Homo sapiens: one gene and its partners. The protein of the gene in region 4 interacts with the protein of the main gene of each other region in a pairwise test. Each region holds a gene or a part of one and is shown on either strand. Other genes may lie near its edges.

Evidence for each region.
Region 1: the proteins of TRAPPC6A (region 4) and SERTAD3 interact in binary tests that used the Homo sapiens proteins (3 or more experiments, as listed by UniProt).
Region 2: the proteins of TRAPPC6A (region 4) and TEPSIN interact in binary tests that used the Homo sapiens proteins (3 or more experiments, as listed by UniProt).
Region 3: the proteins of TRAPPC6A (region 4) and SMUG1 interact in binary tests that used the Homo sapiens proteins (3 or more experiments, as listed by UniProt).

Annotation. Positions count from the first base shown.
Region 1 is NC_000019.10:40,441,332-40,448,476, reverse strand, and holds the start of SERTAD3 (SERTA domain-containing protein 3), read left to right. Parts: upstream 1-4,141; 5' UTR 4,142-4,262; intron 4,263-4,399; exon of another isoform or gene 4,400-4,622; intron 4,623-5,861; exon of another isoform or gene 5,862-5,922; coding exon of another isoform or gene 5,923-5,988; exon of another isoform or gene 5,989-6,154; intron 6,155-6,390; coding exon of another isoform or gene 6,391-6,396; coding exon 6,397-6,987; 3' UTR 6,988-7,145. Other genes in the region: BLVRB (flavin reductase (NADPH)), read left to right, coding at 431-588.
Region 2 is NC_000017.11:81,236,037-81,243,840, reverse strand, and holds the start of TEPSIN (AP-4 complex accessory subunit tepsin), read left to right. Parts: upstream 1-4,785; 5' UTR 4,786-4,807; coding exon 4,808-4,855; coding exon of another isoform or gene 4,856-5,327; exon of another isoform or gene 5,328-5,681; coding exon of another isoform or gene 5,682-5,839; intron 5,840-6,180; exon of another isoform or gene 6,181-6,354; coding exon of another isoform or gene 6,355-6,381; coding exon 6,382-6,454; intron 6,455-6,763; coding exon of another isoform or gene 6,764-6,769; coding exon 6,770-6,861; intron 6,862-7,039; coding exon 7,040-7,133; intron 7,134-7,804. Other genes in the region: NDUFAF8 (NADH dehydrogenase [ubiquinone] 1 alpha subcomplex assembly factor 8), read right to left, coding at 2,688-2,854, 4,159-4,273, 4,394-4,477. UniProt on the Homo sapiens protein: Associates with the adapter-like complex 4 (AP-4) and may therefore play a role in vesicular trafficking of proteins at the trans-Golgi network.
Region 3 is NC_000012.12:54,179,853-54,185,991, reverse strand, and holds the end of SMUG1 (single-strand selective monofunctional uracil DNA glycosylase), read left to right. Parts: intron 1-2,032; 5' UTR 2,033-2,051; coding exon 2,052-2,336; intron 2,337-3,368; coding exon 3,369-3,896; 3' UTR 3,897-4,344; coding exon of another isoform or gene 4,345-4,473; 3' UTR 4,474-5,626; downstream 5,627-6,139.
Region 4 is NC_000019.10:45,175,234-45,183,172, reverse strand, and holds the start of TRAPPC6A (trafficking protein particle complex subunit 6A), read left to right. Parts: upstream 1-4,935; 5' UTR 4,936-4,954; coding exon 4,955-5,038; coding exon of another isoform or gene 5,039-5,080; intron 5,081-7,939. Other genes in the region: BLOC1S3 (biogenesis of lysosome-related organelles complex 1 subunit 3), read right to left, coding at 3,268-3,876. UniProt on the Homo sapiens protein: May play a role in vesicular transport during the biogenesis of melanosomes.

The DNA of each region.
Region 1 (7,145 bases), 4.7 Mb from region 4:
TGGGACTACAGGGGCATGCCACTGCACCCGGCTGATTTTTGTATTTTTAGTGGACTCAGGGTCTCCCTGTGTTGCCCAGGATAGTTTCAAACTCCTGGGCTTGAGTGATACTCCTGTCTCAGCCTCCCAAAGTGCCAGGATTACAGGCATGAGCCACCGCCACTGGCCAGGGCAGGGGATTCCTGTCTGCTTTGTCCCTTGCTTGGGTGCCCAGCACCTGGCCACACAATAGGTAATCAATAAGGATTTATCGAATGAATGAAGCAAAGGATATAGATGAGCACCTGCATATGGAAAGTCCATTCTTGGCTGTGACACCACCCAGGCTGGACACACAGTAGGCACCCTGGGAAGGTCTTTCTGGGGGTCGAATTTTGGGGGAAGGGAAAGGTGTCTGCTTTATCCAGCCCCTCTTGTCTTTACTTCATAGGAGACCAGCCACTAACTGGGGCGTACACAGTGACCCTGGATGGACGAGGGCCCTCAAGGGTCATCTCCAAACATGACCTGGGCCATTTCATGCTGCGCTGCCTCACCACCGATGAGTACGACGGACACAGCACCTACCCCTCCCACCAGTACCAGTAGCACTCTGTCCCCATCTGGGAGGGTGGCATTCTGGGACATGAGGAGCAAAGGAAGGGGGCAATAAATGTTGAGCCAAGAGCTTCAAATTACTCTAGAGAAACCGACTGTGTGACTCTTCCTCTCTCTGCCTCTGTCTGAGTATTTTGGTGTGTCTGCCTGCCTCTGTGTAAGATTTGCTTGTTATGCATTCATTCATTTGTTCAGTAACAGTTTATTTTTATTTTTTTATTTTTTTGAGACCGAGTCTTGCTCTGTCGCCCAGGCTGGAGTGCAGTGGCGCAATCTGGCTCACTGCAAGCTCCACCTCCCAGGTTCACACCATTCTCCTGCCTCAGCCTCCCCAGTAGCTGGGACTACAGGCGCCCACTACCACACCCAGCTAATTTTTTTGTATTTTTAGTAGAGACAGGGTTTCACCGTGTTAGCCAGGATGGTCTTGATCTCCTGACCTCATGATCCGCCTGCCTCGCCTCCCAAAGTGCTGGGATTACAGGCGTGAGCCACTGCGCCCCGCCCAGTAACAGTTTATTGAGTCTGGCCAGGCATGGTGGCTCATGCTTGGAATCCCAGCACATTGGGAGGCCGAGGCGGGTAGATCACTTGAGGTCAGGAGTTCAAGACCAGCCTGGCGAACATGGTGAAACCCTGTCTCTACTAAAAATACAAAAATTACCCAGGCGTGGTGATGCACACTTGTAATCCCAGCTACTTAGGAGGCTGAGGCAGGAGAATCGCTTGAACCTGGGAGGTGGAGGTTGCAGTGATCCGAGATTGTGCCACTGCACTCCAGCCTGGGTGACAGAGCGAGACTCCATCTCAATAATAATAATAATAATAACTTAGCTGGGCATGGTGGTGTGCACCTATAGTCCCAGATACTCAGGAAGCTGAGGTGGGAGGATGGCTTGAAGCCAGGAGTCCAGGTTGGGCAACATAGTGAGACCCCATCTCTACAAAATAATTTTTAAAAACTTAGCTGGGCATGGTGGTGTGTACCTGTAGTCCCAGATACTCAGGAGGCTGAGGCGGGAGAATGGCTTGAGGCCAGGAGGTCAAGGCCTGGCCACTGCACTCCAGCCTGTAGGACAGATCCAGACCCTGTCTCTGAAAATAAAAAAAAGTTTGTGCTTTATTTTGAGGATTTATGCAAGGAGTGGAGCACCAGAGAAGTAAGGCAGGGGGGACAGTTGGGTGTTTTATGAAGCTTCCTTTGGCTACTCTGTGAAGGTGGAAAGGAAGGGTCCAGGAATGGAGGCTGATAGCCCAGAGGGAGTTGGAGGAGGAACTGTAAGGAGGGGAGGAGAGAGTGGGTGTGAGGAATGCCTGGGAGCCTGCGTGGACAGTTGGTGAGGGGTGGAGGGGAGGCATCAGAAAGAAGCATACGGCTGTAACCCGGGGACAGAGTTACACTAGTGCTTCAGGAGGGAGGCTGAGGCTGCAGTGAGCCAAGGTGCGCCACTGCACTCCAGCATCCACGACGGAGTGGGACCCCGTCTCAAAAACAAAAACCCAAATGCAGTAGGGCTTTCCTGAGTTGTGGACCCTATAGGAGGCGCAGGTTTTGGAGGAGGAAGGGGAAGAATTGCTCCTTCCTAATTATGTCCTTTTTTGGAACCTACTGTCCCTTTCTTTTTTTCCCAGGGACACCTTCCCTAGGCCTGGGTGAGCTAAGACACTTCTCTCTCCCTACCTCCAACCCACACCACCCACCTACCTATTCCCCTCCCATTTATCCTGCAAACATCAGGATGACTTGGTTGACAAACTCCAACCGGCAAGAACTGGTCTGAGGAGGCTTAAACCTCCCTTCCCAGAGGTGGCCTGGAGAAAACTGCCTCCTCCCCTTAGGGAAACTCGTTGTAGGGGCGGAGCATTACGGGTGTGGGCTTTCAGGACACTAGCAGTGTCTTCTTTCTGCCTTATTTTTCTGTCACATTCCTGAGCATTTAGCAAACTTTCACTGGGACCTGCTACGTGTCCAGCCCTGTGCTAGGTGATCCTGCAGACCAAGAGGTGGTTGACAGAGATATCCTTGGTACCTGCCCTCGGCGGGGCGTTCCTCAGTCCATATAGTAACTGACAGTCCAGGACTGGGATGGCGGCACAGGAGGCCATGGAATCCTAGAATGGATCCTAACCCAACCTGGACTGCCAGGGAGGGCTTCGGAGAGGAGGAAACCTTTGAAATGTGTTCTGAGAAGCAGCCTGGGAATTGAGGGTATATTTTGAGGATGAGGAAACAAGTTTAAATATCCAGAGGCGAGAAGATTGCTTGAGGCCAGGAGTTCAAAACCAACCTGGGCAACACAAGAAAACCCCCCTCCCCCCTCCCCCATCTCTCTGTCACCCAGGCTGGAGTGCAGTGGCACGATCTCGCCTTCACTGCAACCTCAACCTCCCAGGTTCAAGCGATTCTCCTGCCTCAGCCTCCCAAGTGGCTGAGATTACAAGCGTGCGCCACCACGCCCAGCTAATTTTTGTATTTTTAGTAGAGACGGGGTTTCACCATTGTTGGCCAGGCTGGTCTCAAACTCCTGACCTCAAGTGATCTGCCCGCCTCCGCCTCCCAAAGTGCTGGGATTACAGGCGTGCGCCACTGCGCCCGGCAAAAAATAATATTAATAATAAAGATCCAGAGGCCTTTTATTGTCATGTTTGCGAACTTATTATGTACCTGGCATTGTTGTAGACACTGGGGTAAAGCAGGGAAGAAAACAAACAGAGAAAATCCTTTCGTTTTCCTGATGGGGTGAATGGGAGCTTGAAGCCATTTTAGAAAAACTGGAAGTGACTCAATGGGGCAGGATCGGAGAGAACCAGGAGAACGCATCAAGCAAGGTCGTGAGGGGCTTTGTGGCAAAAGGAAGGAGTTTGAAGTTTGTATTCGGGGTGGGTAGGAAGCCATGAACAGTAGCAGAGGAGTCATCTTGATGGAGCGGGGAAGGAAAGAGGGTGTCAGAAGACCCAGGTGGGACCACCAGAGGACGTGCTGAGAAAACCTGAGGATTAAGAAGGGGCCGCGCGGTAACGTATAGGGGGCGGGAGGGGCAGCAAGGGGGCGAGGCTACGATCGCCTAGGCAACGCGGGCCGCGCCACTCTATTGGCTGGTCTTCCGCTACGTCATCCCCCGCGCCCCAGCGTCCTCCCTCGGAACCCCGGGGGCGCGGCCTCCTCCGGTTGCTCGGCCCCGCCCGCCTGCACAGCGACTTGGGGAGGGGCATGCCAGCCCCTCTGGCTCCACGGTGGAGTCCAGGCCTACCATAAAGGAACCGCAGGGAGCAATGGTGACGATCTTGGAGCGAGGACTGTAGCTGAGTGGAAGGAAGCGGTTCTGTTGGACCGGCCGCCCTCCACCCCGGAGTCGCTGCCCCGCCCCCTGCCAGTTGCACTTCTTTAAATGGCCCGGGGCGCTAGGGAGGGGTGGGCGGATCCGGCGTCTCGGGGCACGGGCGGATGGCTCCGCCCAGCCAATCGACGCCCCGCGGCGGGCGGGACTCCAGCCAATCGCGGCTCGCGGCTCGGCTCCGGGGCGGGGCTGGTGGGCCAGAGGCCAGACGGAGAGGCCCCGCCGAGGTGAGCGAGGCTCCAACCGGTCACTGGTGGGTCCTGGCACTGGCGGGTCGCAACGCTGTGGGCGTTCCAGGAGGTGGTCGTGGCGAACCTGGCAGCTGCGGTGAGGAGTGGTCGCCTGGCTTGGGAATTTACCTTAGGCTGGGGGAGAGAGAAGCGCGCCCCGGGGACTTGCGGAGGCGGGGTCTGGGTGGGACCGGGGGAGGGGGCCTCAGATTCAGGGTGATGATAGGGAGGGTCTGGGGACCTGAGACTGAGTTCAAGACCCAGGAGGGGAGGCGAGGTTGTTGGGGCAGTATTTTCAAGTGGAGGGAGTTTGAAGCTGGGACGTTGGGCTTTTGGAGAAGCGAGAGAACAGAGGGGAGGAACTTTTGAGACAGGGAACCTGGAGATTCGATTCCACTTGGGTCTTCCGGACGGGTTGAATTCGGGGCTTTATCGTGTTCTGGAAAAGGTGTGAGAGGTACGGAGCTGAGATTCTGAGTATTTGGAGAAGCGAGAGAACTAGGGTCAAGGATTCTTGGGACTCCAAGACGCACTGGCGGGGGAAGGAGGTTGCCGGGAAGAGTTCAATGTTCGGGTCTTGGAGCCGGACAGCGAGTTTGGAGGTGAAGTCCAGGGGCGTTTGAAAGTCAGGAGACTAGGAGAAGTGGGAGGAAGTATCAGAATTAGGATACGTAGTCTCCCGAACTAGATCGGAGCATTGTCGTCTTTGAGCGATGTGTTCGGATCTGGGTCTCTGGATCCAAGGGCAGTTTGGAAGGAGAATCGCGGACTTTCAAGGAACAGAGGGACCGGGAGAAAGCAAATTTAGAGCCGGAGTCTGGGGTGGGGGAGGGGTGTTCCGGGCCTGGAGCTCAGACTCGCGGCCCCGGAGGCAATGGAGGGCGGGGCTCGGCAGGCGCCGGCAGCTGGACGTCCAGGTTCCCTTCCCCCACCCGCCTGTGCCCCTGTGCGCATGCCCTGAGGGAGAGCGGGGTGAGGGGGGTGGCTCGTCCCCTGGACGGGCGGAGCCCTCTGGGGATTGTAGTGCGTGCTCGACGTCAATTCGTGTACCTGGCGGCTGTTGGCCCCCGTTTCCCAGAAGCCCCTGGGCCAAATTGGGGCGTTCCTGGATGCTCTGTAAGGACCCATGGGGGGGCGGGGCCTTACAGTGTCGCGGTCTGATTGAGTGGGACCTCCGAGGGGGCGGGGCTTGGTCTGAGCTGAGTTCTAGCAAGTTTTCCTATGGGGCGCGCTTTGGGGGAATCTGAAAGCGTGGGCAGAGGGAATGAGACAGGCCCCTTTCCTACTCTTGGGAGCGCTCCCAGTCGGTTAAGGAAGAGGACATAGAAATATCCCGACTGTTGAAGAAGAATCTCAACATAGGTTCCCCAACAGGGCTCCAGGAGATTTCGAATATAGTAGGCACTCAGTAAATCTGTTGAGCGAATAACTGGCAATTAACTCTTGATCGAGGCCGGGTGTGGTGGTAATCCCAGCTACTCAGGAAGCTGAGGCGGGAGGATCGCTTGAGCCCAGGACTTCGAGACTGCAGTGAGCTGTGATAGCGCTGCTGCACTCAGCCCTGGGCGACAGAGCGAGACCCTGTCTCTAACAAAAAACAAACACAACTCTTGTTCATTAAGCACTTCCGGTGTGGTGGGCCCTATAGATACGTGGCATCTCCTTGACAGAGGTGGTGAGAAGTATTTTTTTACAGTCCCTATTTTACAGATGAGGAAACTGAGGCCCTGAGAATTGACTCATTCAGATCACTTCCCATGATCACGCAGCTGAGCAGTTTCCAATACAGAATTCAGATTTGGGGTTCCCTACTTCCAATCCAGGTCTCTGTGCTCCACACTTGTCTTTCGTGCTCCATGTTTGAAGAAATTAATATTGTGGAAGAACAGTTTTAAGGCTTAGAGGAACTTGAGTTAGGATCCGTACTTGGCAGATGAGGAAATTGATTCTCATGGATGTAAATTCACTGTTTGAGGCCACAACAGGCAAGTAAGTGAGATTTAAATCTAGCTGTACGTAACGCCAGATCTTATTTTCTTAATCGTATATGTACTCACCTTCTTAAACTTGTAGGATTCAGACAGCCTTCATTTTATACATCAGTAAACTGAGATTCCGATGATTAAAAATCACTAACAACTCAATAGGCCTGAGAAAGTGGGATATGAGCCAGCACTACGGTGTCTGGTGTCTGACCTTCCCCTATGCGCCTCTTCTCTCTACAGGGCATCATGGTGGGAGGCTTGAAGAGGAAACACTCTGATTTGGAAGAGGAGGAGGAGAGGTGGGAGTGGAGTCCAGCAGGCCTTCAGAGCTACCAGCAAGCCCTGCTCCGCATCTCCCTAGACAAAGTCCAGCGCAGCCTGGGCCCCCGAGCACCCAGCCTCCGCAGGCATGTCCTCATCCATAACACCCTCCAACAGCTGCAGGCTGCACTTCGCCTGGCTCCCGCCCCTGCCCTGCCCCCCGAGCCCCTCTTCCTGGGCGAGGAGGATTTCTCCCTGTCAGCCACCATTGGCTCTATCCTCAGGGAGCTGGACACCTCCATGGATGGGACTGAGCCCCCTCAGAATCCAGTGACTCCCCTTGGCCTCCAGAATGAAGTGCCACCCCAGCCTGATCCAGTCTTCTTAGAAGCTCTGAGCTCCCGGTACTTGGGGGACTCTGGCCTGGATGACTTCTTTCTGGACATTGACACATCTGCGGTAGAAAAGGAGCCTGCACGGGCCCCACCAGAGCCTCCTCACAACCTCTTCTGTGCCCCAGGTTCTTGGGAGTGGAATGAACTGGATCACATCATGGAAATCATTCTGGGGTCCTAAAACTGTGATAGAGGGGATCGATCCTTCCTCATGTCATCTTCGGTGGCCTGGATCCCTGAATGCAACTCTGGGTGTGTGTTTTTGTGGGGGCTCGAAGCAGTGACTATGGCCTCCTTTGTTCCCATTTCAGGGTTCCACAAACTGTCTTGCATGTGTGT
Region 2 (7,804 bases), on a different chromosome or scaffold from region 4:
GGGCTGGGAGGAGGCTGGGAGGGGGCTGTGGGGCCAGGGGCACCACTCAGCATTTGGGAGGTGCCCCGCCAAGGGGGTTCAGTCCTGGTCATTTCTGTCCTTCATTCTCAATTAAAACCAGTTCCAAATGAACCACTGCTCAGTGGTAAAACTCCTTCTGGACGTTCCCCTTGGATTGGAACTCCATTTGTTAAATTGCTCAGAGTGGGATTTTCATTCCGGCTGGATTTCCCCAAATATCTTACCGTGACCCAGTTTTCTTTTCCTTCTCTGGAGGTTATTCCACCCTCCCCGCTTTCTGTTGCTGGAGCGGGCTGCCCTTGGCCGGCACAGAGAGGCATCCATGACGGCCGTGCCTCTGCTGTCGCCCACCCCGCTGCACCCCGGAGTCCCTGCACCCCCAGCCACAGACAGGGTCACCTGCTCCCATGCACATGTGGTTCCTTATTCCTTCCCACCCCCACCCCCCAGCCCAGGTGGCAGCCCCTCAGGGAAGGAAAGAGAAACTTCTTTCCCCAGAAGCCTCGCAGACCCCTGGGTGGGGCTTCTCAGAATGTTACAGAGGGGCCCCGGGGCCAGGCTGCGCTTTCTGACGACAGGCTGCTCCTGTCTGGTCAGTCCTGGTGCAGGTCGCTGGGTTGTGGAGTCTGCCTCTGGGGGCTCAGTTCCAGAGCAGGGATAGCGCTGTCCCGTCGCCGGTGTGTACTTCTGCGCGGGAACAGACTTGCGCAGCACGCTGGCCCAGGGACGGATTGAGCGGAGCTGAGCCCTCAAAGAACTTTGGGTATCTCCTGAGAGCCAAGGCATTTGCTGTGGTTTGATGTGTCCCCTCCAAAATTCAGGAGTTGCCTAAGTGACAGTATCAAGAGGTGACTAGGCCGAGGGCTCCTTCCTCGCTCGTACGATTAAGAGCCTTATAAAAGAGGCTGCACCTCCGCCTTCTGCAGTGTGAGGACACGGCACAAAGGCCCTCCCCAGACACCAGTACCAATGCCTGGATCTCGGGCTTCGCAGCCTGCAGAGCTGTGAAAAATCAGGCCGTTCTTTGTAAATCACCCAGTCTCAGGTGCTTTGTTAGGGCAGCAGGGACGGCCCAAGGGCACCTGAAGCAGTTAGAGCTCCACACTGTCCCTGCGGTGCGAAAACAGCAGAACCCCCACAACCTCCCCTCCCCCTCCCCCCCGCCTCCCCCCCCCCCACCCGCCCAGCTTCCTGAGCTGTCAATCGATGTGGTGCTGAAATCCAGTCACTCAGGGAGGAAGGGCAGAGCAAAGGTGGGAGGTTTGCAAGGAAATTTGGGGTGGCAGAAAAGAGGGTGTACCCCGGAGGCCTGAGAGCTGAGTTTGGAGGTGTGGGCCACGCTGGGCCACAGGAAGTGGCAGGTCTGTCACCACCTCACACACAGGGTGAAGGACAGCGAGGGGGAGTGCTGGCAAGACAGGTCTGTGGGTGGGATGGGAGGCTGGATTTGGAGGGAGAAGATGCAGGAAGCTCTGCCAATGAGCTGCCAGAGAACGGAGAGGGCGTGACAGGGCTAAGAAAAGGACGTCTGCACACTGAGGCTCGCTCATGGATGAGTGCTGGGCACAAGAAGGAGGAAGGCAGGGGTGGGGGGCAGCCGGCCCTGCACGCTGGGGAGGCGGGTCGGGTGGTTTGTGCCAGCGCAGGGCATCTGAGTCTGGCATGCACAGGGATGGACTGCGGTGGCTTGACCCCAGGAGTCTGGTCTGGATTTCCGTGGTTCCCAAGATGTGACACTATCCTGGCCCTTGGGACAAAATCCAGCACTCTGGCCTGGCTCCTGCAGACCCACCACCCAGATCAGACCCTTAGGGGAAACCAGGTTAATTCTGGGGCAGCATCTGGAGGAGGAAACATGGAGGAACAGACCTCAGCCCACGGGGTCAGCCGCTAGCACGGGCCTGGGGGCAGGCGCAGGCTGCAGCCCCAGGAAAGTGCAGCCTCTGCACCCCGGAGCAGGGGGGCTCTCAAAGCAGTCCCCGCCACGCCCTGCAGGTGGCGCTCAGGCCCCATGGACTCCGGGGTCTCACCATCAACAAGTGCCCGGGCAGAGTCAGGATGTGGCCCTTCTCACCTTAGTTTTAGGTCAAGTGATGTGATAGGGAGGGGGAACGAGAGGGCAGGCGCCATCGGTGAAGTACCTGGGCTGCCGAGGGGGCGACCAACCCCACACAGGAGGGGCACTGGCTGCTGGTGCTCTACGCAGGCCCCTCTCGGAGACTCAGGCCCTTTTGTGAAGAGCCTCCGCCCTGCCCCGTGTCCAGGAAAGCCACCTGCGAGGACCCTGCCCCATGGAGTGTCCCCTCGTGGTGCTGACGTCCTTGTCTTTGGTGTGTGCTGTATACCCACAGCAAGGTCTGCAGGCTTCACCAGATTCACATTAAATACCTTAGTGAGAGTGTTTTAAAACGGGGACCTTGAGGCAGGGTGTCCCCAAGTCCCAGCCCTGCCAGCTTTGGGGGAAAGGCTCTGGGCCCCATTCCATCTCAGAGAGGCCAAGACCCACATGTTGCAGTCTGCACACAGTAAGCCCCAGGCTGCAGGATTTGACCGAGTCTTTATCGTGGCTTCCGTTACATCTTATTCTAACTCAGGTTTACGGACACAATGCTGGAAAACCAATTCCTGCTCTACCCACGCCTCAACTTGTTAAGAAAAAACAGGATCTAACACCGAGGAATGTCACATCTTCGCCATTCCCACTTCCTTTCTGCCCTAGGCATTCGATATGTGCCACCAGGGGCCATCAGGACTAGGGCTCTGCACCCATGGCAGCAGACAGGTGTGAAGCTCAGAGTCCCTCCTAACAGCCTCCCTCCAGCGTCTTCTTGGCCTGCAAGATAAAGTGTTTTGTCTGAATGGCTTGCTTCCAAGTTAGATACGCCTCAAAAGCAAGCTACCACACCACACGTTGTGTTCTACCAAATACCTTACAGAGAACTTGGGTGCTGGCATATGGTGGGGGCTCGACTGGTTGGAGCCTGGGGCCCCATGGGCAGGTTCTCTGGGTCACTTGTCCACGGGACAAGGGCCTCATGACACTATCACAGAACTCACTGCTGCCCCCTCCTCTGAGCCCCCACGAGATGCCACATTTGGTCTCAAGCTCTCATAGAGGGAAAGCAGGAGCCCCCCCCCTTTTTTTTTTTTTGAGATGCAGTCTCACTTTGTTGCCTAGGCTGGAGTACAGCAGCGTGATCTCGGCTCACTGCAACCTCCACCTCCCAGGTTCAAGTGATCTTCCCACCTCAGCCTCCCAAGTAACTGGGACTACACCACCATGCCTGGCTAATTTTTTTTTTCTTTTTTTTTGTAGAGACGGGGTCTCCATATGTTGCCCAGGCTGGTCTCAAACTTCTAGGCCTAAGCAATCCACCCACCTCAGCCTCCCAAAGCGGTAGGATTACAGGCACGCGCCACCACACCCAGCAAAAAGTGCAACTTCTGATGAGTTGTCCACCCCTGGATCCAAGGCTGCTGGGGCCGGGTAGGGATGAAGGCCGTGGAACTCTTGTTCAAATACCCTTTCTCTGGTCCAAATCTCCGGATTAACAGCTCCCAGTAAACAGAGTCAGCACTGGCATCAAGGCCTACCCAGATACACTGAGGTGGTACCCGGTGCGGCTGACACTTAGGGAACCAGCCTCAGAATGACTTAAAGCCCCACGGGCAAGAAGCCCTATCGTGCCAGTTGTGAGGGTGGCTGGGGGTTCCCCGCAGGACACGTGCTGAAGGAATCCACCACTGCAGGTGCACAGGGGCTGCAAGTGCCAGGGAGGTGAAGACCCGGAAGGTGCTGGGCACTTTCCGGGAGTCCTGTGTTGGGTCAATCCTGGCATGACACCCCCCGGCGGCAGTGCTAACACGAAAGCTTACGCGTTTTACAAGGCGCTTTTTTGCACACATCTCCCATCCTTTCTGAGGTTGGTGCCAGTCCCGCTTTACAAACATGCAGGGACAAGCCCAGGACGGCCGAGGTTTCGCGGGCTCGTCGATGGCTCGGTGATTTTGTCAGCCGGCGTCTAAAGCACGCGGCAGGCGCTCAAACCTTGAACCAACGGGAAAGCAAAGGAAAGCCGGGGCCCGCTGGCTCTTGGAGGGGAAGGGCTGGGAAGGGGGGAAGGGGCCCGCGCCCACCTACCGCAGCGGCGAAGCAGCTCCGCAGGGCCTCGAACTCCCGCGCGCAGAAGTCCTTACTCAGGCGGCCGCCCGGGGCCGTGGAGGCCTGCACGCACCTGCCGTACGCCGCGGCCTGCGGAAAGGACGGGCGTGGGTCGTGGGGTCCCCTGACCCCGTCACCGTCCTCCCTCCCAGCCACCTCCCCGCGCGGCTCCTCCTGCCCCGCAGCACTGGCCCGCCCGCGGCTCCTCACCTCGGCCCCGCAGGCGGCCAGCCGCTCGGGGAAGGCGCGGAGGCGGCTTCGCACGCGGCCCCACACCGCTCCGTTAGCCGACATGAGCGGCTATTCCCAGCCCCCTGGAGGCCGCCATCTTAGGTCCGTCCTCTTCCGGTGTCAAACAGCTTGATAGGTCGGCGCTTCCGCCCATAACCTTTCCTGAACTTCTTAATTGGCCAGGCTTTGCCTGGCCTCGAGCCCCCGCAATTGGCTCTTGTCCTAGTCTGTCTGTGCTCTGGGACTTCGGATTGGCCTAGGCTCCAATTGTTTACGAAGCCAACCTCAGGGCCCGCCCTACCGTGAGGGATTGGCCGGCGGACCCAGACCCGCGCAGTGATTGGAGGGCCCGGGCCTGGCGGAAGCGGGGCAGACCGGGAGGGGACCTGGATCATGGCTGCCGCGCCGCCGCTACGGGACCGCCTGAGCTTTCTACACCGGGTGAGTGAGGGCGGTCCGCCCGGGCCCCGGTCCCACGGCTCCTCTCGAGCGCCGCATTCCCCGGACTCGCCCCGGGCCGGAGCCATTGACCTTGCGTCTCCGCGCCGGGTAGCTGCTCCTGGCCCCTTCGCCCGCGCCGACGCCCCTGAGCTGCCCGCCCGCCGCGCCGTCCCGGGGCCTTCCAAGCCGGGCCTTCCAAGCCGGACCCGCCGAGCGCAAGGGCGATGGGCACAGCCAGACCCTGGGGGAACGAACAGGCCTCGGCCAGCATTCAGTGGCCTCCGACGGGAGGGAAGGAGCGGCGGACCCGGTGGACGTGGAGCCGCTGTGTCCGTGCTGCTGGCGCCCAGGTGGGCTGGCAGCCCGCCGTCCTCCCTGACGGTGGCGTTTCAGAGGACTCCGGTCCTGGAGAGGCACCCCTGGGTTGCAGAGAACACAGACGTCTCGAAGGGACAGAGAAGGACGCACCATTGTAAGCCCCTCTTAGTAAACCCTCTGAGAAGTAGAGGCCGGGGCGAGTTCCCAGGTGTCGTCCTGAGCAAACTGCCCTCTTTTGTCAGCCCTGAGCTTTCCTGGGCTGGACCTCAGAGGGGGCTGGGTGGTCCCAGGGCGCGACCTTGGGCTGCCAGAAGCCACGCTAGGGTTGGTCAAGGCTCTCAGTGCAAGGTTTCGACATAGTCGTTCTGTGCTGCGTTCTGCAGTTGTCAGCTGTCACCTGCAAACCTCAGCAGCTCCCCTTAGGGCGTGGTGGGCAAACAGTGTCAGTGATGCGTGTCCACAGCCTCGGGAAACACTTCAGGTCCACGTTTTCGTATGTTGTCACTAGATCTCGGCCCTTCCGACCGAAAGGCTTCGGCACCTCACGCGGTGGGTCCCATGCTTGTCCTGTTAAATACTCTTGAACTCTATTCTGTCCTGATACTGAATAATGCAAGAATGGGTGGTTCCAGTTTTCATCCCTATAAACCGTACATCTTTGTGCCAGTAAGTAAGCATGAAACAAATAAGTACGTCTGCGCTAAGCGAACGTAAAACACACGACATCAGTCGGTTCTCGGGGAGCGATGGAGCTAGTCACGCTGAGCGGCTGTCACTCTGCCATTCCGGCCTCTGGGGAGGTGGAACGATTCATAGTCCCCTGTGTGGAAAAGGGGCTTGCCTGGGCCTTGTTTGGCTTTGCTAGTCAGTAGGTAGGTACAGGAGAGGTACCTTCAAATAGCCTTACATGCTGGTAAGTGCAGGGAGGCTGGGGGCTGTGTCCCTTCTTAACCCAAGTGGCGCAGCTCCTCCGTGGAGAACCACCATTGATTTGCCTCTTCTCCGAGGCTGTTCATCCCTGACTGTTGAGAGAGGACCCTGCTGCAGCCTCCCTGTGGCCAGTAGCACAGTTCTCATCCCTTCCCAGTCCTCTCTCCGGCCATGTCAACAGTGAGAGGTGGGTCGTTTCCATCCCCTTTGGGGGGCTGCGGATTCACCCCTGTGGGAAATGGCACCTCATCATGGTAGGGGCTCTTGTTCCCTTTCAGCTCCCGATTCTCCTGAAGGGGACGTCCGATGATGATGTCCCGTGTCCGGGCTACCTGTTTGAAGAGATTGCTAGTATCCTTCCTTGATGTCCCCGTGTAGTGGAAAGAGCGGATGGCAGGGTCCCAGAGTGGTGCAAAGGGTTCCTGGGGATTCTGCTGTCCCTAGGGGGATGCACGGCTCCTTTATTATTGTAACCAGGCATGGGTGGGGTCTGAAGGCTGCAATACTGATGACACAGGGGACCCTAGAAGCCCAGGTGCTCCTGATGGCAGAGCCTCCAGTAGGCGCCTCCAGGGAGCGTGAACTGAGAGGCCCCATGGCCTGGTCTCCCTGCGGCCTGGCGCAGCCCTCATCATCTCGCCCTTCCCTAACCCGAGCGTGCCGCAGAAATCTCCCACGAGTCTCCGGGCAGCAGCCAGTGCCTGCTGGAGTACCTCCTGAGCCGCCTGCACAGCAGCTCCGGCCACGGGAAGCTCAAGGTGAGCCCCTGGGTGGTCAAGGGTCAGGCCTGAGGCCCGGCCCACGGTGGTGAGGATGGAGGAGCAGACGAGCGGCCCAGGGTGGCAGGCAGCTCTGTGCCCTTGGGGTGCCCCCGGGCCCTGCCCTGGGTGTCCCGTGTCCGGCCTGCCCAGCACTGCTGACCGCCCCACTCCCCAGGTGCTGAAGATCCTGCTCTATCTGTGCAGCCACGGCTCCTCCTTCTTCCTGCTCATCCTCAAACGCAACTCTGCCTTCATCCAGGAAGCTGCAGGTACAGGGGCCGCGCACGCGCTCAGGAAGAGCCAGGGCTTTGGAGAATGGGGGAGGGTGGCGGATCCTCCAGGTTTGAGAAGGAAGACTTCAGCCAGAGCCCTCACCTGGGCCGGGTCCCGATCAAAGCCCCGCCTTGCTGATCCTGGCCCATCTCTGGCCTCTCCACCTGCTGCCCACCCTCACCCCAGCTGGCCGGCTCGGCCTCCCCTGACGCGCCCTGCCCCCTCCCTCCGCTGGGTCCTCCGTGCCTCCTATGCGTCCCTGGGCCTTTGGCTGCGTCTGTCCCTGCGCTTGCTGCCCCGGGTGCCAGTTTGTTTCTCTGTGTGCCCCACGGGTCTTCCCCCTCCATCCCAGTGCCCACACATAGCAGACTCAGTGCCTGTTCACACATCCTTCCCAGGCTGTGGGTTCCCCTTCTGGGGCTGCTCCTCGGAGCCCAAGACAGAGTGAGGCCATGGGAGGGCGGAGCTGGGAGGCAGGAGAGGCGGGGCCCCGGCCAGTCGGTCTGTCCAGGCAGAAGATGGGTCTGGGGGAGCTGTCCCCGCAGGCTTGGGGGCAGTCCCATGTGCCTCTGCCTAATGAGGACTTGTGGGGGCTTGGCCTGAGATCTTCCATGGGGTGGAGGGAGGCCTGGCTCCAGGTGGTCACTGGGCGCACCATGTCTGGACC
Region 3 (6,139 bases), on a different chromosome or scaffold from region 4:
GTGGAGTGAAGCAATGGCCTTTGCAGTTTACAAAGCTTGCTGTCATGTTCCTGCCCCCTCCCTTCTCCTTCCTCCCACCTCCCTTCTCTCTTCCCTTTCTTCTTCCTCTCCCATTTCTTTTCTCCCTTCACCTAAACATAACATCTCATTCCATCCTTACGTCTGTTTGTTTGTTTTGAGACAGTCTCCCTCTGTAGCCCAGGCTGGAGTGCAGTGGCACAATCTCGGCTCACTGCAACCTCTGCCTCCCAGGTCCTGGTTCAAGCAATTCTCCTGCCTCAGCCTCCCATGTAGCTGGAATTACAGGCACGTGCCACCATGCCCAGCTAATTTTTGTATTTTTAGTTGAGACGGGGTTTCACCATGTTGGCCAGGTTGATCTTGAACTCCTGACCTCGTGATCCACCTGCCTCAGCCTCCCAAAGTACTGGGATTACAGGCATGAGCTGTTGCGCCCGGCAAATTTATTTATTTATTTATTTATTTATTTATTTATTTATTTATTTTTTATTTTATTTTTTTTTGAGATGGAGTCTTGCTCTTTTGCCCAGGCTTGAGTGCAGTGGCACGATCTTGGCTCACTGCAACCTCAGCCTCCCGGGTTCAGGCAGTTCTCCCTGCCTCAGCCTCCCGAGTAGCTGGGATTACAGGTGCCCACCACAACGCCCAGCTAATTTTTTTTTTTTGAGAGAGAGTTTCACTGTTGTTGCCCGTGCTGGAGTGCAATGGCACGATCTTGGCTCACCGCAACCTCCACCTTTCAGGTTCAAATGATTCTGCCTCAGCCTCCAGAGTAGCCGGGATTACAGGCACGTACCACCATGCCTGACTAATTTGTATTTTTAGTAGAGGTGGGAGTTTCTCCATTTTGGTCAGGCTGGTCTCGAACTCCCGACCTCAGGTGATCTGCCCACCTCAGCCTCCTAAAGTGCTGGGATTACAGGCTTGAGCCACCACGCCCAGCATGCCCAGCTAATTTTTGTAATTTTTAGTAGAGACGGGGTTTCGCCATGTTGGCCAGGCCAGTTTTGAACGCCTGACCTAAGGTGATTCAGCCGCCTTGGCCTCCCAAAGTGCTGGGATTACAGGCATGAGCCACCATGCCTGGCCTTCCTTATGTCAACATTATTAAGTGGATATTATTATTCTTTGTATTTGAAGGTGGAAACCTGAGGCTCTGGCCATGGTTGTGTAGCTCGTAAGATTCTATGAGGAGTCTGTAATCATCCTACTCGGTATTCCTGAGTGTGGGAAAGAAGCTAGGCTGGGGTTAGGGGGTTGTAGAATTAGCAGGGTGGCTGATCAAACCATCTAAGGCAAGATGGCGTGGGTGGTTAAAGCATAGCCTTGAGCCAGAGAGATTGGGCTCAACCAAATCCAGCTTTATTACTTACTAACTGTAAGACCTTGGGCAAGTTGCTTAATCTTGCTAAGCCTCAGTGTCCTCACTTATAACAGGGGAGCAGTAATACCCACCTCATGGGATTGTTGTGAGGATCAATGAGGTGTACCTGGTGCAGAGCAGTCGCTCACCACCTGGAAGCTATTGTAATTAGCCTTCCCAGGTCTCTGGGCTGTGGCTGTGCACTTGCATTTCATTCTTCAGCGCCGTGCTTTCCAGAACAGTCCATTCTGGCTGGGCTTTTCTTTTTTAGGATGACCTTAAAGGTGCTGAAAGGATGCCACCAGTAAATGTTTATTGAAAACCTACTATGTGCTCGGCATAGCCCAGGAACTAGTGACCTATGCCTGATGGAAAGGAGATTTGGAGTGGGAGATGTTTGGTGGCTATGGCTTATCCTCACCAGGTGCCATGTGAAGAGGACAGATAATGGAAGTGGGGAGGGAAAGGGCCCTTCATTACCAAGAACTGAGATGAGTTCAGTCCTACTTGGTGGTTGGTAGATGACTGACATGGTCTCTTAGGGTCCCTTCTGAGCCCAGGAAATGGTAGTGGGGGCCCTGGCAAGCATGGATCCCTCCTACTCTGTGGCTGAGGGTTGATGGGGCTTCTGTCCATCTCTTTTCCCAGGTGACAGCGGCATGGACATATGCCCCAGGCTTTCCTGCTGGGGTCCATCCATGAGCCTGCAGGTGCCCTCATGGAGCCCCAGCCCTGCCCTGGAAGCTTGGCTGAGAGCTTCCTGGAGGAGGAGCTTCGGCTCAATGCTGAGCTGAGCCAGCTGCAGTTTTCGGAGCCTGTGGGCATCATCTACAATCCCGTGGAGTATGCATGGGAGCCACATCGCAACTACGTGACTCGCTACTGCCAGGGCCCCAAGGAAGTACTCTTCCTGGGCATGAACCCTGGACCTTTTGGCATGGCCCAGACTGGGGTAAAGGGTTTGGCTTCCCCAGTGGGTGGAGTGGGGGGTTCTAGGTGGATGCTTGGCTGGGTGTGCTGTGGAGAAGGAGCATGTGCATGGCTGTAGACATGTGTAGGTCCTCCCGCCCCATTCTGTCTCAACACATATACTGGCTCCTGTGGTCCGAGGCCCTCTCCCAGCGTCTCTGCCCGTAATTAACCAAGCACATTAATGGTAGTTTCGTTTTCCCTGTGAGCTGGCCAGTAATTGCCTCTGAGAGCCCTTCCTTCCGCCAGCCCCATCCTTACTTTACTGGATCTCCCCTGTCCCTGAAGTGTGGTTGGGGTCAGAAGAGGGACTAGGACTGCTGGGTCCTCAGAAGAGACTGGTTGACAGGGGTGGGTATGTAAGAGATGCAGGGCGTTCTGGGAACCTGGGTTCTGTTTCCTAGCTAAGGCGAGGTTCAAAACAGAGCCTGGCTCCAGTGCCTGCCCGCTTTTCTTTCAGGGCTCAGGATGAGTGACTGCCCCCAGTGGGGGTGCTTGGCAGGTGGGGGAGGGGAAGAGGCTTCAGGGCAGAAGGCTCAATCGCTTTTATTGACCCCAACTGGGTGATGAAAGGTGATCAATGATGATCGATGGAAATGACAGCCTGAGGCTTGGGGCTGAGAGGGCATCCAGACAGCAGTGGTCAGCCCATCCTTGTGCCTCCTTTAACCCTGGCTGCCTTTCTGTCTCAGACCATCTGTCTGTCCCCAGTACTAACCATCAAACCCTGTGTAGGGCTAGATATCTCAATGTAGTCCCTGTACTTAGTCCCAAAGGCTAGTTGGGCTAGAGGGAAACAAATTCTTCTGGACCACGGTTCACAATGAAGAACTGGAAAAAGACAGACAGGCTCAAACCATAGGGCCAAGAATCCTTGTCTCAGGCCTTTGGGTGAAGGTAGGGGTAGGGGGTGCAGGCTGGATCCTCATGTAAGGTATAAAGAAGTCAGTTGGTCCAGAGCCCGGGCCTCAGGTCTCCAGTTTGAAGCCTTTCATGTCTCTCTCCTTCCTCACAGGTGCCCTTTGGGGAAGTAAGCATGGTCCGGGACTGGTTGGGCATTGTGGGGCCTGTGCTGACCCCTCCCCAAGAGCATCCTAAACGACCAGTGCTGGGACTGGAGTGCCCACAGTCAGAAGTGAGTGGTGCCCGATTCTGGGGCTTTTTCCGGAACCTCTGTGGACAGCCTGAGGTCTTCTTCCATCACTGTTTTGTCCACAATCTATGCCCTCTGCTTTTCCTGGCTCCCAGCGGGCGCAACCTTACTCCTGCTGAGCTGCCTGCCAAGCAGCGAGAACAGCTTCTTGGGATCTGTGATGCAGCCCTCTGCCGGCAGGTGCAGCTGCTGGGGGTGCGGCTGGTGGTGGGAGTTGGGCGACTGGCAGAGCAGCGGGCACGACGGGCTCTGGCAGGCCTGATGCCAGAGGTCCAGGTGGAAGGGCTCCTGCATCCCTCTCCCCGTAACCCACAGGCCAACAAGGGCTGGGAGGCAGTGGCCAAGGAAAGATTGAATGAGCTGGGGCTGCTGCCACTGCTGTTGAAATGAGTGCCCTTGGGGCCTTGCATGGGACACATTCAAGACCTCGAAGTCATTCTTGGCCAAGCAGATGACAACACATCTCCTGGACTGGAGCAAAAGGTCCTTCTGTGCACCCTGGTCGCTGGGAAACGTATTCTTTGATCTGTTGAACTGTCTTCCAACCTGCCATGGCAGTTTTGACACTACTCCTGTTTGCCCTCCTGATTCCTGCTTTCTTTACCTTTTAACATTGCCCCTTTCAGGGGACCCCACTTTGTAGGGAATCTGCAGAAGGTGTGCTTTTGCACTTGCAGACTGCTCTACCTCAGTGTTTCCTTGGGAGACTTTATTCAGCTGAGAGTGCCCTAGACAGTAACTTCTAAGGTCACGTTTACTATTTCAGAGGAAATATCTTGCCAGGATACCTACCCATCCTTATAGAACAGTTACCTTTAGCTGACCCCTTTCCTCACAGGGACCAAGACAAAGCATGGGACATGAAATTAAGAGTGAACTTCTTATGGGAGGCTGCAGCTGGATCAGAGGAAAAATCCAGTGTGACAGAGTGCAAGTCAGAAGACCTGGCTTTTCATCCCAGCTTTGAAACTTGGAACTTTTTGATTGACAAATTAATAAACCTCTCTATGCCTCAGGCTCCTCATCTGTAAAACAGGGATGCCTACCTTATGGGGTTGGTGTGAGGATTAACTGAGATCACACTTGAAAGTGCCTTGCATGGGCTTGGCATGTGGGTGCTCATTACATAGTCTTCTTGTTTTCTTGCCTCTGGGTTGAGGATTCACAGCACTGCACTACAAGGGTAGCCCCTCTCCATTCTGGATACCTTGCTAGGAGAGAGTCTGGGCTTCCACCTGCGGCCAGGGTGAAGGGAAAATTCTTGCCATGTCAGAGATGGATCAATGACTATGAAAAAACTAGCCTGTGATTTTTTTTCACTCTAAGCATTAAGAGCTCCTAAAGCCTTTTGTCTTGTTACTTTTTTCCCCCTCTTGCATGCTAGAGGTGGAAGGTAGTCATTTAGATTTCCCCCCTCTTCCCTCTTCATTGTTGGCCAGGGGTTCTCTTGGGCAGCTGGGGGAAGGATGTAGTAGATCTCTCTTTTTTTTTTTTTTTTGAGATGGAGTCTCATGCTGTTGCCCAGGCTGGAGTGCAGTGGCATGGTCTCAGTTCACTGCAACATCTGCTTTCCCGGTTCAAGTGATTCTCCTGCCTCAGCCTCCTGTATAGCTGGAATTACAGGCATGTGCCACCACGCCTGGCTAATTTTTGTATTTTTATTAAAGACAGTGTTTCACCATGTTGGCCAGGCTGGTCTCAAACTCCTGACTTCAAGTAATCCACCTGTCTTGGCCTCCCAAAGTGCTGCTGCCTGGCTGGATGTAGCAGATCTCCAATTGCCTTACCAAACCTGCAGGGTCTCTGTTAAGTGTCTGTTAGGGGTCTTATATGATACTCTGGACACCGTGAGAAACAGGTGATGGGGCAGATGGGAACCTGGTATCCAACTCATTTTTTATGTCTGCTGAATGGTTGACTGGGTGCCCCTTTGGTAAGGGCTGGGAAAGTGAACCAAGTTGGGAGCAGAGCAGGTCTTGAGACCACCTTAATGAGGAACACATGGTCTACTTCCTATCTCCTGGGACACAGGTCATTTCCAGCTTCCAGAATTAGTAAGATTTTTCATATAAATCCTCCCCTACTTCATTGTATAATAAAGAATTTGGCCTTTGTCTTCAGTTCCTGAGAAGGAGACTCTAAATCCTTGGAATTTCCCAAGTAATAGGAGTATCTTTGTTTTTCGTGGCAGGTCCCTGAAACTACACCTGAATTTATGTTGAGATTTGACCTTAGGCTGCACCTAATTTTATATTGAATTTGATCTCAGACCACACCTGAGTTTGCTGTAAGATTTGACTGAGGATGGAGGCTGACCATGCCAGAATGACCAACCATATAGTTACAGGGCTGGGACTTTGAGCTGGATGATACCAGCTTGATCCCCAGGGAGGGGAGAGGGGCTAGAGATTGAGTTCAGCCACATGCCGATGATTTTAACCAATTATATCTATGGTAAAACTCTAGATATAAAAACTTCTGACACAGGTTTTGGTCAGCTTCCTGGCTGGTGAACACATGGATGTGCTGAGGGATGTGCATTGGTATCCTGTTTCTATGAGCAGAGGGCACACATCTGTGCCTGGGACACTCCTGGACCCTACCATATATTTGTCTTCATTTGGCTGGTTCTG
Region 4 (7,939 bases):
CCTTTATCTGGCCCCTTCTGGTACTGCACTCAGCACCCCCCTGCCCCACAACCACCCCACACTTCTCCATTCTAGGTGGAGAGCAGAAATCATCTTCTTCTGTTAAACAGGTTATGGTCCCTTTCCCTTCTGCCTCAGGGCCCTCGCATATGCTGTTCTCCCTGTCTGCAACTCTTCACCCTACTCCCATTTCACCTACTTCCACCTTCCGGGCTCAGCTCCAGCACCACTCATCACTTCCTCTCTCCCGCCCAGATTAGGTCAGGTGGATCCCGCTCCACCTTCATAAAGCTCCTTTACTTCTTCATGGCTCTAATCATGGTGCCAAGAAAATTGTATCTAAATTATAAATTATGGCTGGGTGCAGTGGCTCATGCCTGTAATCCTAGCCCTTTGGGAGGTCAAGACAGGAGAATCCCTTGAGCTCAGAAGTTCAAGACCAACTTGGGCAACATTGTGAGAGCTCGTCTCTATTTTATTTTTTAAAATTAATTATTTTTTATTTATTTTTGAGATGGAGTCTCACTCTCACCCAGGATGGAGTGCAGTGGCATGATCTCAGCTCACTGTAACCTCCACCTCCTGGGCTCAAGCGATTCTCCTGCCTCAGCCTCCCGAGTAGCTGGGATTACAGGCATGTGCCACCACGCCTGGCTAATGTATTTTTAGTGGAGATAGAGTTTCACCATGTTGGCCAGGCTGGTCTAGAACTCCTGACCTCAGGTGATCTGCCTACCTCGATCTCCCAAAGTGCTGGGATTAAAGACATGCGTAACTGCGCCTGGCCTATTTATTTTTGAGACAGAGTCCTGCTCTGTCGCTCGGGCTGGAGTGCAGTGGCACGATCTTGGGTCACTTCAACCTCTGCCTCCAGGGTTCAAGCGATTCTCATGCCCCAGCTCCCTGAGTAGCTGGAATTACTAGCACGTGCCTCGGCCTCCCAAAGTGCTAGGATTACAGGCGTGATACATCGCCCAAAATTTTTGTATTTTTAATAACTACAGGGTTTCACCATGTTGGCCAGGCTATCATCTCTATTTTTAAAAATTAAACTATAAATTATGATTACTAGAACTATCTATGAGAACATCTTATTACTGTTTCTCCCACTGGACTGCGACCTCTGTGAGGGCAGGGACTGGGTGCTATACCCCTAGCCGCAGCACAGGTCAGGTACCCAAAACGTGTGTGTTGAATTAATAAAATACGAGTAAATACAGAACCAGGGCAAAAATCTAGGGCCCCTGATTTCCCAACTACAGCTTCACCTTCCATAAGCCAGGCATGGAGGTCTCGGGACCCCCATTCTCAGAGAAATCAACCAACTCACCCTTAGCTTAGATAGGGAAACAAAAGGAACTAACCATAAGGGTAAATGCTTAAGAGTTTTAATCAGTCCGCCATAAAAAGCTCCTCCCCATTCTCCATCTTGGGGGCTCAGATCTTGGCTTCGGGTTGAGATGAGGGACAGGGATATCAGGCTGGGAGAGGAGAGTAAATATGAATGCGGCTGAGGGACCAGAGCTGGGATCGGAAGAAAACACAGGTGAAAAGGAGCAGAAAGAGACTGCTAACCCCAGTCCCTGAGCCAAGTCAGAAATCCAAGTCCTTTTATAGCATCCAGGAGCCAAATGTAGTGAAATCCACACATCATATCGTTCTTATCTGCAAAGTGCTGTCATCTGGCGCTGAAAGCACCAGGACTGGGCTGAATTGGGCCCGAAGTGCCTGAAGGGTGTCACTTTAGGTCTGGAGAGTCAAGAGGAGACGCCACCTTGGCCTACAGAGTTGAGAGCGAGCATCATCTTGGCCTGGAGGGGTGTGCAGGAAATGCCACCTTGGTCCAGGGAGTTGGGAGGAAGATCCCCTGCCTTGGGTTAAGAGGGGCCATCATTTTGGGCCTGCAGAAGGAAGGAAACCATGGGGAGTCCCCAGACCCCAGGATCAGGGAGGTGTAAGTAGGATGGAGACAGTAAAAGAAAGCAAAACCTATCCCACGACACTGCTGGACTTGGGAAACAGAAATCAGGCTGAGAGGGCGGGGCTAAGCTCAAAGGGGAGGAGGCAGGAGGCAGATGGGAGAACAAAAAGTAGAACCAGCACACGGAACCAGGGCCAAGCTTGGGCAGCAGAACAAGGACCCAGCTGGCTAGGCGCAGTGGCCCACGCCTGTAATCCCAGCATTTTAGGAGGTGAGGCGGGTGGATCACCTGAGGCCAGGAGTTCGAGACCAGCCTGGCCAACAAGGTGAAACCTCATCTCTACTAAAAATATAAAAAGTAGCCAGGCGTGGTGGTGCATGCCTGTAATCCTAGCTACTCGGGAGGCTGAGGCAGGAGAATCGCTTGAACTCGGGAGGTGGAGGTGGCAGTGAGCCGAGATCACGCCACTGTACTCCAGCCTGGGAGACACAGTGAGACCCTGTCTCTAAAAACAAAACAAGGACCCAGCCTAGGGTGAAGGCAGTTCTGGAAGTGGAGCTAGGATGGGAGGCGTAGCCAACTGAGTGAAGGAAGACGGCAGGGAAGCTGTGCCACATCCTGGGTTCTTGTGGGAAGAACGGGAACAAGCTCCCCACCATAAGCAGAAACCAAACTCAGAAAGGCAGAGCAGAGCCCAGTGTGTGGTGGCTCACACCTGTAACCCCAGCACTTTGGGACGCCACAGTGGGAGGATTGCTTGAGCCCGGGAGTTTGAGACAAGCCTGGGCAACATAGTGAGACCTTCTCCCCTCTTCAAACCGACAGAAAAAAATTAACCGGGCAGCTGGACGTGGTGGTGCAGGTCTGCAGTCCCAGCTACTCTTGAAGGCTGAGCTGGGAGGATCACTTGAGCCCAGGAGGTCGAGGTTGCAGTGAGCAGTAATCCCGCCACTGCACTCTAGCCTGGGTGACAGATAAACACCCTGTCTCCAAAAAAAAAAAAAAAAAAAAAAAATTGGTGAGCCCCCAGGGTGGAAACAGATTAAGGAGCAACTATGTAACAAAGGCTGGAGCCAAGCCCCAGGGGAAGGCTCAGAACCAGGCGGCAGGGTCAGGATCGGGAGAGGAACCAGATCTAAGGATAGTGGGGCCCTGGTCTCCGCAGTAGGGGTTGAACTATATCCAATATAAAGCATTATCCAAGGGGACCGGATTAGCCCCCATGGGTGACACCAAGATGGGAGCGGGGGTGGGGGGTGATAAGAGACACAGGAGACAGAGTCAGGTCCCAGAGGCAGCAAGGCCTACCCCCAAATTGCAGTCAGGTTGGGAAGTAGAATCATGGCTAGGCCCGCGGCCCCGGGTCTTTCTCAGGCTCGGTCCCTGGCACGCCGCGGATGTCCGGCAGCAGGCGGCAGCCAGCCACGATGTCCAGACGCTCGGCCAGCGCACAAAGGTCCCCGCGCGCCAGGCGCACGCTGTGGGCCGCCGCCAGCCCCGCCGCCTGGGCTGCCGCCAGCCTACTAGCCAGGGCGGCCACGTCGCGGCCTGCACGGCGGTAGACACCGCTCACGGCGGCCGCCACGTCGTGGTCCAGCCGCGCCTGGCTCTCCGCCAGCCGAAGTTGCAGGAGCGAGCGCGCGGGGGCGGGCGCCGGGGCCTCCTCCGTGCCCCAGGCCTCCTCCGCCGATTCCCGCTGCACCACGAGTGGAGGCAGGTCCCTCGGCGCGGCCGTCGGTTCCGGCTCCGGCTCCGGCTCCGAGTCGGTCTCCGCGGCTTCCCCAGCCACCCGCAGCCCCGTGGGGCGGCCGCGCGTCGGGCCCGAAGGACCCAGGTACAGCTCCTCCTCCTCCGACGAGGACGCAGAGCGCTCGGAATCCGTCTCGGTCGCCTCCCCCGGCACCACCGTCTCCGGCCTCCGCAGGGGCCTCCGCCGACGACCCTGGGACGCCATGGCACCGAACTAGGGGAGAAGAGCGAAGGGACTGCACGTGAGACCGGCGCCGCGGTGGGTAAAAGGCGCAGGTCCTGGATTCCCAGCCCCTTCGCTGATTCTCTTAACGACTTGGTGTCAGCTGCTCCCCGTCTGGGCCTCAGTTTCCTCTTCTGTAAACTGGGTGATGATGGGGGTTACTGGACCCCAGGCTCTTCAGCGTACAGATGGGGAAACTGAAGACCAGCTCGAACAAGGATCTGGGGCCCGAGTTCCCGGAGTCCCAAGCCGAGGTCTTTACGAATTTGCCTCCTAGTAGAGGCCACACCCTCCACCTGGTCCACCATGCCAATCTCAGACCCGGAAGCACACGGGCCCGTGAGCTGCTCGGGACCAGCGCCAGAGTCGCAGAAAGGATGACAGTCCGACTGGACTCTGCTGGGGGCACTCATGGGATGGGAGAAGCGCTAACGCCAAAGACCGTACCCGGCAGCTGACGCTCGGAGCTTGCGAGATCCGCTTCCTAACCCGAGTGCTGCGTTCTCACCGTGGCAGCTGAAGGGCTGTGATTTCAACCAATAGGGGAGCGGGTTGGGCGGGCATTAGCGGCCAAGTCACGTGGATTCGCCCGGCTACCAATCAGGAAGCAAGTTCTCAGCATCAGCTTTGAGTGAGCGTGCAGAAGAGTCACATGAATGGAGGAACCGCCAATAGAGAAACAGCTGGGCCGGCTCTTCCAGGTTGTGCGACGAGGAAAGTCTGGAGTGGACCAATAGGGATTTTAAAAGCCGAGTATGTCACGTGTAACCAGTAATTTGGCCAATAGGAATGCTCGAGAACCCGGAAATAGGGAAGGGACGGCAGTAAGAGCAGAAGATGTTGCCACATGTGGCCAGAGAAGGCGTAGGCCCGCCCCCTAGTGTCCCAGGCTCACGCGCACACCACCTGAGTCCGGGGCGGGGAGGCGGGGCTAGTCTAAAACACCAATGGAAGCCGGAGTAGGAGGGCTCGCGCCATGACGCAAGAGGCGTGGCTTACCAAGCCTGGCCAATGAGAGCTGGAAGCGCTGGGCGCATCTTTAGGCGTGCGAGGAGGGGGCATGGCGGATACTGTGTTGTTTGAGTTTCTTCACACGGAGATGGTGGCTGAGCTGTGGGCTCACGACCCCGACCCCGGCCCGGGGGTGAGCGCCGGGCTCCGTGGGGAGGAAGCGGGGGCCACCAAGGTAACGCCTCTGGGAGAGCGGAGGGCGCGTCAGGCGTCCGGGTTCGAACCCGGCCCAGCCCCGGCCTTGCAGGGCAACGTCTGGCCCTGGCTTCCTCCTTTGGAAAGTGGCGTTCGCGACGGTGCCGGCTCGGGGTTATTGCTAAATTGAGCGCGATGATTCAGGGTAAAGCACTTAGCTCAAGGCCTGAGTAAGCGGCTAGTAATCATAATAATGCTGTTATTGGGCGTGTGCTGAGGACTCGCCTCCCCCACTTACTAGGTGTGCGACCCAATGACTTAATCTTTGTGTGTCCTAGTTTTCTCTTTTGTAAAATGAGTATCATAACGTACCTAAGCCTCAGCGTGGGACATTTATTTATTCGACACCCACTTATTGAGCGTCTGTTGTATTCCAGGCACCGTTCTAAGACAGAATCCCTTCCTTGTGAAGCTTACATTTCACTAGGGGAGTCAAATAATAAAATGAAATATGCCGGCTGGGCGCTGTAGCTCCCAGCACTTTGGGAGGCCGAGGCCGTCGGATCACCTGAGGTCAGGAGTTCAAGACCAGCCTGGCCATGGTGAAACCCCGTGTCTACAAAAATTAGCCGAGCATGATGGCGGGTACCTGTAATCCCAGCTACTCGGGAGGCTGAGACAGGAGAATGGCTTGAACCTGGGAGGCGGAGGTTGCAGTGAGCCAAGATTGTGCCATTGCACTCCAGCCTAGGCGACAGAGCGAGACTTGTCTCAGGAAAAAAAAAAAAGAGATAATGGGGTTTTGCCATGTTGCCTAGGCTGGTCTTGAACCCCTAGGCTCAAGTGATTCTCCCGCCTGGGCCTCCCAAAGTGCTAGGATTACAGGCGTGAACTACCGTGACTGGCCCGGGACTGTGTGTGTGTGTGTGTGTGTGTGTGTGCGCGCACGCGCATCCTGCTCGGTCGCCCAGGCTGGCTGGAGTGCAGTGATGCAGTCATGGCTCACTGCTGCCTCGACCTCCTGGGCTCAAGCGATCATCCCACTTCTCAGCCTCCCAAGTAGCTGGGACCACAAGCGCTGCTGGCGCCACCACACCTGGCTAATTTTTTGTATTATTATTATTTTTTTTAGTAGAGACGGGTTTTCACTGTTAGCCAGGATGGTCTCCATCTTCTGACCTCGTGATCTGCCCATCTTGGCCTCCCAAAGTGCTAGGATTACAGGCGTGAGCCACTGCACCCGGCCAATTTTTTTTTTTTTTTAGTAGATACGGGGTTTCACCATTTTGGCCAGGCTGGTGTCGAACTCCTGACCTTGTGATCCACCCGCCTCGGCCTCCCAAAGTGCTGGGATTACAGGCGTGAGCCACCGCACCTGGCCATGTAAGACATTTTTATTGGCTCTGGTTTCCTTCCAGGGTTAGAAGCCCCAGGGAGGATGTTGCTTGTTACCATCTCGATATACAGATACAAACCTGTCATAAGTTTAAAACATCATAAATCAAAAATGCATTTAGCCAGATGTGGCGACTTGCACCTGTAATCCCAGGTACTCAGGAAGCAGAGGTGGGAGGATCACTTGAGGCCCACCGTTCAAGACTAGCCTGGGCAACATAGCAAGACCTCACCTCTAAAAGAAATTTTTATTTTTATTTATTTATTTATTTTTGAGACAGAGTCTTGCTCTGTCGCCCAGGCTGGAGTGCAGTGGCGCAATCTTGGCTCACTGCAAGCTCCGCCTCCTGGGTTCACGCAATTCTCCCGCCGCAGCCTCCTGAGTAGTTGGGACTACAGGTGCCTGCCACCACACCCGGCTAATTTTGTTTTTTTTTTTTGTATTTTTAGTAGAGATGGGGTTTCACCATGTTAGCCAGGATGGTTTTGATCTGACCTCGTGATCTGCCCGCCTCGGGCTTCCAAAGTGCTGGGATTACAGGTGTGAGCCACTGTGCCTGGCCAAGAAATTTTTAAAATTAGCTGGGCGTGATGACACATGCCTATACTACCAAGAACTCGGGAGGCTGAGGTGGGAGGATTGCCTGGGCCCAGGAGTTCAAGGCTGCAGTGAGCTATGATCATGCCACTGCACTCCAGCCTGGGTGATAGAGTGAGACCCTGTCTCTAAAAAAACATGGGGATTACTCAGTGAACCATCAAAAATTTTTGGACTCTTGGAGCTTTGTCATCATTGGAGGAGACAGACAAGTAAATGAGTAAAGTGTCTGGTACATTGTGTAACTGCTATGAGGAAGATACAGCATGGCCCAGGGAGTATGCATCAGCCTGGGGGTGGGTAATAATGTCCCAACACTCCATATCCTTCCTGGCTTTCAAACGAGAAACCCTGGAGTCCCAACACCTGCCTTGTCTCCCTCACCTGCAGCCCTCCCCCAGGCTCTGCCCAGTCAGTCTAAATACCTTTCTCACGTGGCCCCTCCTCTGCCCTGGTCCAGTGCTTTCCGCTCTCCTGTGAAATGAGCCTGCTCCCTTCTCCCAGCCCATTCCACCTGTCACATCTTCACCATGCTAACAACTATTAATCCTTCAGATCTTAGCGTAACAATCCCTTCCTCAGGGATGCCTTCCCTGAGCCCCCAGTCAAATTTGGATCTCCTTTATACATTCTCCTGGTCTCCCTCTCGCACTTTTTTCTTGGTAGGCTTCATCATACTCAATAAGGATGTATTTGATTTTTTTTTTTTTTTTGAGACGGAGTCTCGCTCTGTCGCCCAGGCTGGAGTGCAGTGGCGCGATCTCGGCTCACTGCAAGCTCCGCCTCCCGGGTTCATGCCATTCTCCTGCCTCAGCCTCCCGAGTAGCTGGAACCACAGGTGCCCGACACCACACCCGGCTAATTTTTTTTTTTTTTTTTGAGACAGAGTCTCGGTCTGTCCCCCAG